Linked DNA regions of Homo sapiens. The protein of the gene in region 1 purifies or fractionates together with the protein of each later gene. This does not show direct contact. Each region holds a gene or a part of one and is shown on either strand. Other genes may lie near its edges.

What was found.
Region 2: the proteins of TXNDC15 (region 1) and SDAD1 purify together in Homo sapiens (affinity purification with mass spectrometry; 2 studies listed by BioGRID and IntAct, with this or other methods). This does not show direct contact.
Region 3: the proteins of TXNDC15 (region 1) and TMTC4 purify together in Homo sapiens (affinity purification with mass spectrometry; 3 studies listed by BioGRID and IntAct, with this or other methods). This does not show direct contact.

The regions. Positions count from the first base shown.
Region 1 is NC_000005.10:134,898,228-134,901,977, reverse strand, and holds the end of TXNDC15 (thioredoxin domain-containing protein 15 isoform 1 precursor), read right to left. Parts: intron 2,490-3,750; coding exon 2,293-2,489; 3' UTR 343-2,292; downstream 1-342. UniProt on the Homo sapiens protein: Acts as a positive regulator of ciliary hedgehog signaling. Involved in ciliogenesis.
Region 2 is NC_000004.12:75,949,328-75,953,008, reverse strand, and holds the end of SDAD1 (protein SDA1 homolog), read left to right. Parts: intron 1-2,211; coding exon 2,212-2,259; 3' UTR 2,260-3,094; downstream 3,095-3,681.
Region 3 is NC_000013.11:100,672,580-100,676,329, reverse strand, and holds the start of TMTC4 (protein O-mannosyl-transferase TMTC4), read left to right. Parts: upstream 1-1,534; 5' UTR 1,535-1,586; intron 1,587-3,750. UniProt on the Homo sapiens protein: Transfers mannosyl residues to the hydroxyl group of serine or threonine residues.

The DNA.
Region 1 (3,750 bases):
GTTCCAGCCACTGGAAGCTGCATGAAGGAAAGCAAGTTATTGAGAGCCTCAGGTTTTTTCTTTTGCTTTGAGACAGGGTCTCACTCTGATTGCCTAAGCTGGAGCGCAGTGGCATGATTACAGAGCTCACTGCAGCCTCGACCTCCTGGGCTCAGGTGATTCTCCCACCTCAGCACCCCGAGTAGCTGGGACTACCAGGACGCACCACCACACCCAGCTAATTTTTTGTACTTTTAGTAAAGACAGGGTTTCGCCATGTTAACCAGCCTGGTCTCGAACTCCTGAGACTCAAGCAATCCACCTGCCTCAGCTTCCCAAAGTCCTGGGATTACAGGCGTGAGCTACTGCACCAACCTAGTTTATTCTTTAAAAAGGATATTAAACAAAATAGTATATGTAAAGCATCTAAAACAGTACTTGGCACTCACACAGTAATAACTCAATATAAGAGGTGGACTCACTAGAGTTTTCCTTACATTTGTATTTATAAGTACACACATGTGAAGATTCAAATCCCAGCTTCATCAACTTACAATCTGTGTAACCTGGGCAAGTTATCTAACTCTCTATGCCTCAATTTGCTCATGTGTAAAATAGAAATAATGTGCCATTCTGAGATACGGTCCCCTCCTGCCAGTGACCACCCCAAACACAGCTGTTGGAAACATGACACATAAAAGTTGTAAACTCCCATTCATTGTAACACTCTAAGAAGGAGACTCATCTGAGGTTTTATTTCTATAGAATTTAGGGTGCCTTGTGAAATAAACATTCAACTACTCTAAAACCCTGGAAACAATTAGTATAAAAGTAATTTATGATGAGGTAATTAGCTGTCATATCTGAATTTAAGGAATCTTTTAGAAACAGCTTTTCAAAAAGTTTGTTTAGGCCAGGCGCAGTGGCTCACACCTGTAATCCCAACACTTTGGGAGGCTGAGGCGGGTGGATCACCTGAAGTCAGCAGTTTGAGACCAGCCTGGCCAACATGGCAAAACCCCATCTCTACTAAAAATAGAAAAATTAGCTGGGTGTGATGGCACAGGCCCATAGTCCCAGCTACTCAGGAGGCTGAGGCTGGAGAATCGCTTGAACCCGGGAAGCAGAGGTTGCAGTGAGCCAAGATTGCACCATTGCACTCCAGCCTAGGTGACAGAGTGAGACTTTGTCTAAAAAAAAAAAAAAAGTTTGTTTAAATTACATGTTGTCTCTTTACTAAACATGTGTCTTGAACTAGACTAGAATCAACTTGTGGGCAAGAACAGTGTTTTACACTTCAATACTTCTTTTTGTTTGTTTTTGAGATGGAGTTTCGCTCTGGTTGCACAGGCTGGAGTGCAGTGGCATGATCTCAGCTCACTGCAACCTCTGCCTCCCGGGTTCAAGTGATTCTCATGCCTCAGCTTTCCCAAGTAGCTGGGATTACAGGTGCCCGCCACCACGCCCAGCTAATTTTTTGTATTTTTAGTAGAGAGAGGGTTTCACCAAGTTGGCCAGGCTGGTCTCAAAAGTCCTAACCTCAAGTGATCCTCCCGCCTTGGCCTCCCAAAGTGCTGGGATTACAGGCATGAGCCACTGCGCCCAGCCTGCTGGGAACATTTTAAGGTTCAATTAATGCATGCTGCTTAGGTAACTATGATTAAAATGTATACGTTAGCATAGAACTGATAATAATTGAGCTTTAGTTACAGCATTTCCTTTCTCCTAACATCTCCCTTACCCAGAAACAACTTAAAACACTTCAAATTTTTTGAGTTAGAGATCACAAACATCAAGGTATTTGACTCTTATTTTCCATCACTTGCTACTTGAGGGGGTCACACTAACCAATTCTGGTTACATACTTTCCTGCTATGGACTCTAGAAGAAAAACTGCAAAGAAACAGAAAACTAACCTTCTTAAACATATATAAGGAATCAAGGGTTTCCTTAAACTATTACCTGAGAGTCCTATTTTTGCCTTCTGTATAGTAAGCATGTCATTCTACTCACTATTCTGCCGGAATACATCTTCACATTTCAAACTGGATTACTTTCCAAATACTGGATTACGTTCATGCAGTAAAAACAAGAATAGTGCATCTATTGAATATTTTTGCATTTGCTTATTGCAATACTAGTTAAAACACCAGTTTATAATTTTTTTATACATTCAGTTGTTCAACAAATGATTCTTTTAATCTGCCTGAAGTTTCAAGTCAACACGTCACTGGAGAAAATGTATGAAACTGTAGCACTAATTTCTGAAACGAAGGATTGAAGTTCCTCTTTCCAACTTCTTTCAGACCATCACTACTCCACATGTTCCTGCTCTTGTCCTGGAATTAGCCACCGAATACTCTCAGTTCGAATGGTAGCATACATAATAAAACTAATTAAAAAGAATAAGGAAAATACAAGCAACCAGTCCACACTTTTTATCAAAGTGCTGGGAAGAGGGCCTATTTGGTCGGCTTGAGTTACCACCACATTCTTCTTGGCTTCTATACCTGAAAGAAAAATCACTGGTTTCAAATCAGGCAGAAAAAGCACCCACCACAGATTTTTCTCAAGTATTATGTATGGTATGCAAAATGACATGCAGTCCTAAAATAAGCATTGCCACTAGTATATATATAAATATATGGGATGGATTTCACTTGCCTATCAGTGTAATTTGTAAGTTGCCTTTCTCCCCACTGCATCAAAGGATCAGGAACCCATTCAGCTGTTCACAACTAAAACACTAGAATTTCTGTGAACTCATCAGAAGTTTCTTAGTCAATGTGTTTATAAGAGTTGTATTTTGGTGTCTTTTGAGACCAAAGTTCAGTAAGTAACTAGTAAAACTCCTCTCAGGTGTCTACAGAATGTTTTCACAGGTTAAGTAATGCTAAATTCGAAATGCTTTTTTTTTTTTCTGTGATGAAGTCCTGCTCTGTCTCCCAGGCTGGAGTGCAGTGGTGCGATCTCAGCTCACTGCAACCTCCGCCTCCTGGGTTCGAGCGATTCTCTTGCCTCACCCTCCCAAGTAGCTGGGATTACAGACACACACCGCCATGCCTGGCTAATTTTTTTGTATTTTTAGTAGAGACGAGGTTTCACCATGTTGGCCAGGCTGGTCTCGAACTCCAGACCTCAGTTGATCTGCCCACCTCAGCCTCCCAAAGTGTTGGGATCACAGGTGTGAGCCACCGCACCCAGCCCCAAAATGCTTTTAATAATTTACTGAAAGAACTGTTATAACAACAAGCCACCAACGGAAACAGGGATTACCAAAGATGCTCTGACTCCCAGATTTGTGTTCTAGGTTTTCTTAGAGCACTGAATAAAATGGCTCCCTCTCCACACATCAATCGAAATGACAATCAGGGATCCATGACAAGACTTGGACTAGCTAACCACCTTGTAATATCCTACTTTTACTCCTATCAGCCAACTCAGCTCTTTTTTCTTTAGTGTTAGCTAAAATGATTATATGCAATTTAATATATATGCAATGTGTGTTATAATTTTTATTTATTTCCAGTGAGCATACTTTGGGAAGAGTGGGATGCTCACAATTGAGACAGTGAGGCTTTAGAGGAATGAACTTTTCCAATGGAGGTAATTTTTTCAATTTACAATGCTTTACAATGTTTTACAAACAATAAAAAATAAGGCCATATGTTTTGGCAAATATTAAGGAACTAAGATAGCATCTACAAATGGATTAATAAATGGAACAGTAGCAGCAAAGAAAAAGAACAAAACATAACCATACATGACAAT
Region 2 (3,681 bases), on another chromosome or scaffold:
TCCCCTTTAGACCAGTACTGTTCAATAGAAATATAATATGAACCACATATATCACTTAAAAATAAACAAGTAAAAAAAGAGGAAATTGTAACAATATATCTTATTTAACCCAGTATATCTAAAATAGTATTGTTTCAACATGTAGTTCAACATATAAAAATTATGAGTGAAATATTGTACATTTTTGTTTCTGAGCTAATTGAAATCAGCATGTCGTTAACACTGCAGCACATCTCAATTTGGACTAGCCACATTTCAAATGCTCAGTAGTCACATGTAGTTAGTGGCTACCCTATTGGACACAACAGTTACAGAGCATCCCCAAAACTGCCCTGTGACCCCAAGGGCCCTGTGAGAAAGGAGCATCACACTTCACACACCCCCCTACCCTTTGGTGATATTTCAGTGTCTTAAATAAAGGAATCTTACCTGGCTTGAAAGTGTACATGAGGTCTTACTGTAAATTGTTAGAATATGAAGAGGTGACTGGGATGAGACTAGAAGAGGGAAGTAAAGCATACGATAGGGAAGGAGAGGAGGATCTTGCAGTAAAGCCTGTAGAAAGATAAAAGAAGAAAAGGGGGATATACCTGTTCCTTTTCTTTAATTGGTGGCATTTGAAGGGGAAGGAACTGAAATATGTGTGAGAGTAGGCTGTGCTTTGCTACAAAGCTTAATGAGTGGAAGTAAATTCCCATAACCAACATTAGCTAACACATTTAGTTCTTAGCATGAGACTTCACTATTCCAGGGCTTTCCATTTATTAACTTGTTTAATCAGTATACAACAGTATGTGCAGTTACTGTGATTAAACCAATTTTGCAGATGAGGAAAATAAGATAGAATTAGATGAATCTGGAAAATACCTCCTTAGCCAAATTAAGTTGAAATGAACTTACAGATTTTTGTTCTGCCTTAAGTATCCCAGCTCTTCTGCTTTTCTGCAAAGACATACCAAGACCCAGGTGTGAGTTAAAGGCAAAGAGTCAACTGGAAATCATAAAATCCAAAAAGTTTGAACATTTGTATGTAGAGCCAGGTAACTTCTACCCCGAAACTGTTTTAGGTGTATCTTGTTAAAATTTAAGCTAGAATTTTAAAATAAAAATTAAATAAAAGCTAGAGATTTTTAAAAGTTTCTAGGACAAAGAATAGTACTTGGGAATTAATGGAATAGTATCCATCACAAACTTAAGATGTATACATTGGTCTTGGTTAACTTTAATTTTGGTTTATTTTTGATCATCTTTAATACTATGTTTGCTTTCTTTTGACATGTAAAACTTTATAAGGGCTTTTGTAGGTTTGCGTCAGACACTGATCCTTCAGTCTTCTTTTTCTCTAGATGTTAAATTCTTCACCTTCCAGTTCTACCCTGGGGATCTTGAAGAACCCAGCCTCTGGTTAGAGACAAACTCCAGGAGATGAAAGCCTAGACTGAGTCTCATTATGATATACAATTCACTGCTTTCATTCTTCATGTTCACTTTACATACTTCCAACACAAAATAATTAAACAAGTTAAAAATTAGAGCCTGTATTAACTAGAATAAATATTTTGCCATAAGCTACAATTGTCAGGGCTTCAATTTCTGAGTTAATATCTTCATGTTTGAGCCATTATAAAGGGTTAGTGTTAGCATATACTTAGAACATTTTCTTAGTAAGGTATCACTTTTCTTTGTTTCAGATTTTATATTGATAGAGTTATCATAAATCTACACAAGTGCTGAATGCCATTATAAAATCTTTGAGTGATCCATACATGCCATATTTAGTGGAATATATGTGATATTGGGAAAGGTGATTGATTATGAAGAAAAATCTGTTTTCCTGTTACTTTTAATTTAGACAATGTATTCCATCCACAACTCCAAAATATTAAGAGCCACATAGACCAAATAAGTATTATTTATTATCCCTGGAGACAGGGATAATAAATAGTAGTCTCTGCATTCCATAGCTGCTCCTGTTTTGAGCTTATGCCTCCATGAGTTGGGAACAGCAGTCAAGAGTTTTGCATATTTCCTAGCAGTAATATGCCCCATCCTCGATTCAGATGTGATCTGTTTTGGAATATTTTATCATTTATAGTTTTTCAGGATGGTGTATTGACTTGGTGATTCCTTTTTAGTAAACTTTCATGTAACCAAATTCGTATAATAGGGTACCCAAGAGTTATCATGTTTCAATACTTTTTTATCTTACAGTTGGCACTACGAGATGCACTTTTGAAAAAGAGAAAAAGAATGAAGTAACTTCCTGGCAAGTTTTCCATTCCTAGAAGAATGCTAAGTTTGTGTCCTTGCTCTGAAAATTGGTAAATCAAGCATGTTTGTTTACATTAAAAAGTCCAGACACACTGTATTGTGAAAACTGCTGAACATGTGGCAGCAATTTTGTGTTTTTATTTTGGAGACGGCTAATGGTAGGAATGTTAATGTAAATAGTGGTGGTAATGTAAAATCATTTCATTTATCATTCATGCAAAAAAAAGTATGTATTGAGTGCCTATTCATTGTCACTGTAGATGCAAAACGAATGAGCTGTAACCCCTTCACTCAAGGCATTGACAGCTTAGCTGTGAGGGTGGACACACATATGTGTATTTACAGTGCAGTGTAAATAGTTCTGTAGTAGAGGTTAACTCCATATTTCTGTGAGGTCACTGAGGCCTTATGGACTAACTCTGTGAGGATAGGAGTTATATATTCTTATAAGACAAAACAAAACAGGACAATGTTACAAGAGTAAGAGGTTCTTACTTGTACATAGGCTTTCCTGCTGAAAACAGGCCCCTGCTGTACAGATTTTGGGTACATAATTTAGCTCTTTTAGTCAATCCAAGAGATTTAAGTGACCCCCCCCCCCCCGTGTTTTTTTTGTTTTTGTTTTTGTTTTGAATGCCATGTAAAGGCTTTTTGGTTAAGACCTCACTTTTAAAACTGCCTTAAGTATAAATAGTACCTTTGGAATATATTTAGTTCATCATTTGAGCTGCCTTCATACTGGTTTCCTCAGCCTTCCTTCAGCCTGTAATATTTTCAGCCCACTGTTTACCTTGTCTCAATAAAAGGTTTCTAATGCCAAATACGTACCTTTGTATGTGGAGTGGTGTGTGGTGTTCTACGTTCCACAGGCGTGCTACATCCATTTCAGGGGACAGTCTGTTTGCATGCAATTTTTTGCATTTGGAAATAGTTTGGTGCCTTTTGCTTCAGCTTTCTCAGATAATGTTGTGGTAGATGTTACCTCAAGTTAGAGTAAAGGGCAATTTTCTGCACTCAGAAAGCATTTTCTTTTTTATTTATTTATTTGTTTTTTTTTTTTTTTGAAACGAAGTTCACTCTTGTTGCCAAGGCTGGAGTGCAATGGCACGATCTTGGCTCACCACAACCTCCGCCTCCCAGGTTCAAGCGATTCTCCTGCCTCAGCCTCCCAAGTAGCTGGGATTATAGGCATGCGCCACCACGCCTGGCTAATTTTGTATTTTTGTTTTAGTAGAGACGGGCTTTCTCCCGACGTGAGGTGATCCCAGAGTGCTGGGATTACAGGCATGAGCCACTGCGCCTGGCCTAGAAAGCAGTTTCTAAAACCAGTGTTCTTATTTCCTTTCCAGTTTCTTCTGTTCACTTTCTACATTCAACTTCAGTTTTATTTCAATGAGACTTAGAGACTTT
Region 3 (3,750 bases), on another chromosome or scaffold:
GAAGGCAGAGTTTGGGAAACACTGGATAGTGGTGTCTTCACTATCACAGGGAGACAGGGAGTTGAAAGCAAGCAGGGAAAGGACGCATTCAGTTTTGGATGGGTTCCATTTGAGGTGCTTGTTACCAGGAGTAGCTGAATAGGAAGCTAGATAAACGGATTTGGAGCTCAGAGGAGCAAAGATTAGAGTTGCAAATTTGGGATATATTGATTTAAATGTTGACAGCAGGTTAAATCATTCAGGGAAAAATTGTGGAGTAAGAGGAAAGGTCTGAGACCTTGAAAACTCTGTTATTTGGTGGTCACCCAGAGTAGACAAGCACGCCAAGACTGGGGACAGACAGGAAAGTGGAGCACCCCCGCCACAGGAAGACGTGTTTTAAGGAGAAAGAAGGAATTTTGCTCAGATCAGTTAACACGAGAAAGGAGAGTGTCCTTTGACTTTAGTGATGTGGATGCTACTTGCGACAATTAAAAAGGCAATTTCACCGAGTGTGAAAACGAACACGTGGAGTTGAGAGACCACAAAACTGGGGGCAGGCGCCTCTTTCACCAACTTCAGCGATGGAAAGTAGAAGAGGGTGGCAGCAAGGGTACGTGGAGTAGAGAATCTTGGAATGATGAAATGCCGAGGATACGGATTCCAGTCCAGAGGGAGCAACGGATCGGATTCTGCGATACTGGAAAAACAGAAGGTGGGGGGGGGGGCTCGGTGATGGAGGGAGCAGGTGTGCAGTTTTGCCGGTGGAAAGTGGAAGTTTCTCTTTTCTCCTGAAGCAGGCGGCAAAGACCTCTGAGAGTGGGAGTGTGGTGGGTGTGCCGGGCCCCTGGATGGGAGTGGAGGTTTGGAACCAAGTGGCCCGAGCCTGCGGTGAGTGGGCCCGCCCTGGGTGGCTCTGGCCGCAGCAGGGTCGATGGGGCGGCATGGTCTCGGCGGGAAGAACACGGCTTCAGTCAGTTCTGTTCTAAGAAGCAGAAGGTGGAGATACGCATGTTTTAAACAACTCCTCCCGGACAGGAAGAAGTGGAGTTCTGGCTGTTCTGCGAGGACGCCGCAGTCCCAGCGTGGAGACCACCGCGCAGGCGAAGCGCGAGACAGGCCAGAAATAGGGTCCCGCGCGCGGACCCCGGAGGAAAAGCGAGGGCTCACTCGGTTTCCCGCAGCCAGCCTCGCCCGACCCAGCTGGGGCCGCCCCTTCCCGCCCCGGCCCCGCCTCCGCCTCAGCTCCGCGCCCACAACCCGGCTTCCTCCTCTCCCGCCGGGTCCGTCTGTCCCTGCGCCTCCTTCGCCGCCGACTAGCGCCCCCTGGCCTGACGTCACCGGCGCGTCCGCCAATGAGCTGAGGAGGGACTTGGCTGTGGCCTGAAAGTGACGGGAGCAGCAGCCAATGGTCGGGCGGAGGGGGCGGGCCGAGACTGGTGCTGGGGGGCGCCCGCGCGCGTGGGGAGCTGCGGGAGGCGCGGCGCGGGGGGGGTCGGGTGCGCGGCGGGCGGCCCCTCCCCCTGCCAGGTCCGGGCGGGTGCCTGGAGCCGCCAGAGTTTCCGCACCCGGGAGGGAGATGCGGCCGGGGCTCAGGCTCCTTGCAGGTAACGCGCGGGGCGGCCCCTGCAGGGCCGAGCGCGCCGCGGGGCGAGCGGAGTTGGACGCGGAGCGGGCGCGGGTTCCCCGCTGCCGCCGTGTCCCGAGCCCCGCACGGCGGCCCGGGCCAGAGCGGCGCTGCTGGAGGAGTTGGTTCCGGGACCTGAGCTGCGGCCCGGGCCGGGGTCACGGGGGACGCGGGCCCCTGTGTGAGCCGCACATGGGACAAAGGGCGCGGCGTGGAGGCTGCGCGCCCCGCCCGCCGCGCTCGGGCCCCTGAGCTTCTCCGCCCGGGCAGAGGTCGCCGCCCCCAGCCCCTGCCTGCACAGCCGCGCCGGCGCTCCCTCGGCCCGGGCGCACCCGGCGCCTGCGGCGCGTCCCCGGAGCGGCCATCTGGCCGCGGGGCCCCGCGCCTGGCCGCCAGCTGGCCGCGGCGCAGGCGATGGCTGGACACAGCCGGGCCGCTTGGCCGCCTGCCCTGGGTTCCGCGGCGGCTCCCCCGCCGCGCCGCGAGCGCCTGCTACTCCACGCTCGGCTGCGGAGCGGAGCGGCGCGAGCGCGGGGCCACCGGCCCGGGCGCCCGGGGCCACCGAGCCGCCGCTTCCCGGCGTGGGCTCGGAGTTTGGGGAAGCCGAGCAGGTGGCGCAGCCACTGCCCACCTCCTGCGAACTCTGCGGGGCTTCTGGTCTTGTTGATGTTGTGGCTATGGGCTGCGTGTGTGTTTTTCTTTTTTTTAAACCACACACAAAAGAAGGGAGGAGTTAGAGGAACGATCTAGCCACTATGAGTCATCCCACACTTCGCTCTTTCCCCGGGAGAGCAAATAAATGCATGGGGAGAATGTCTTGAGAAACAGTTATAGTAGGGACTGACTAGGTCCCCTCCCTGTCCCTTTTCTCTGCAGTCCTGTCTGCGCCGGGCGCGCCCCAGATGGAGTGGGGTAAAATCACGGCCAGTGCACCTAGATAGGGGAAATGGCTACAAGCTAGCAAACTGGAAACTTTCTGGGACAGTGGAACTGTGAATATCAAACCACACACATTCTTGCTATAGGCAGCCATGGCCCTCGTGCGCTACTGAATTATAAAATGGGAAGGCCGTCACAGCAGGACGATACCTTAGCCTTCAGTAGCATGTATTCAGCACTGCACGGAGGAGGGCGGTGGTGGTGGCTCGCGCCCCTGCCTTGAGGGGCCCAGGGTCTGATCAGTCAGGAAACTGCCAGGCCCAGGGATGCAGGGTCACAAACGATTGTGTTCTCTAATCTGATTCCCAGAGGCGCTGTCACCTCTCAGCGTGCATAGGATGGCTGGCTATGTGATTGAATGTTACAGATGAGGTAGAAAGGCTGGGCAGAGGTCAGCAGGCCCCTGGATGCATGGAGGGGAATATTCTTCTGTAGGTGGCTGCTGCTAATTTTTCCAAGGGGAAACATTTAGGTTTGGTCTCGCCATTCTGTTTACCGCAGTCCAGGCTGCCGTGTCAGCTGTCATTGGGCCCTCATGGTTCACAGCTGGATGACATTTGTTTTTCTGGGGTCCCTGTGTGGGGTCTTTTTGGCCTTCTCACTGATGATTAATTTGTTTTAACCTCCTGAAAACAGAGGCTCGATATGAGAAGTTTGAGAAATTGTAGGATAAAGGGACGTCTGCTTTGTTCCAGATTCAGCCCCTGTTGAGGGGCCAGTTGATTCTGTCGCAGGAGTCAGGTAGCGAGCAGAACACTGACTTCATTCCTCCTGGGTTGTGCCCTCTGCTTGGCCTGTAGCAGAGGCCACAGTGGGTCTCTCTTTTTGTTGCTTCATAAGGTGAACTAACGATCCAGCTATGGCAGAGGAGCCAGGGAGCCCAGGCAGGACATCATGTGGAGAAGAGGGACCAGAAAGTTCAACCTAGGGCCCATCTGGAAGAAAACAGAGCATCCTTTCCTATTTCATGTCCTGACTGTAAAAAATGGTGGAGGCCGGGCACGGTGGTTCACACCTGTAATCCCCATGCTTTGGAAGGCTGAGGCAGGAGGATCGCTTGAAGCCAGGAGTTTGATTCCAGCCTGGGCAACATAGTGAGACCCTGTCTCTACAAAAAAATATTTAAAATAGCCAGGCATGGTGGCATATGCCTATAGTCCCAGCTACTTGGGAGGCTGAGGTGGAAGGGTCCCTTGAGCCCAGTA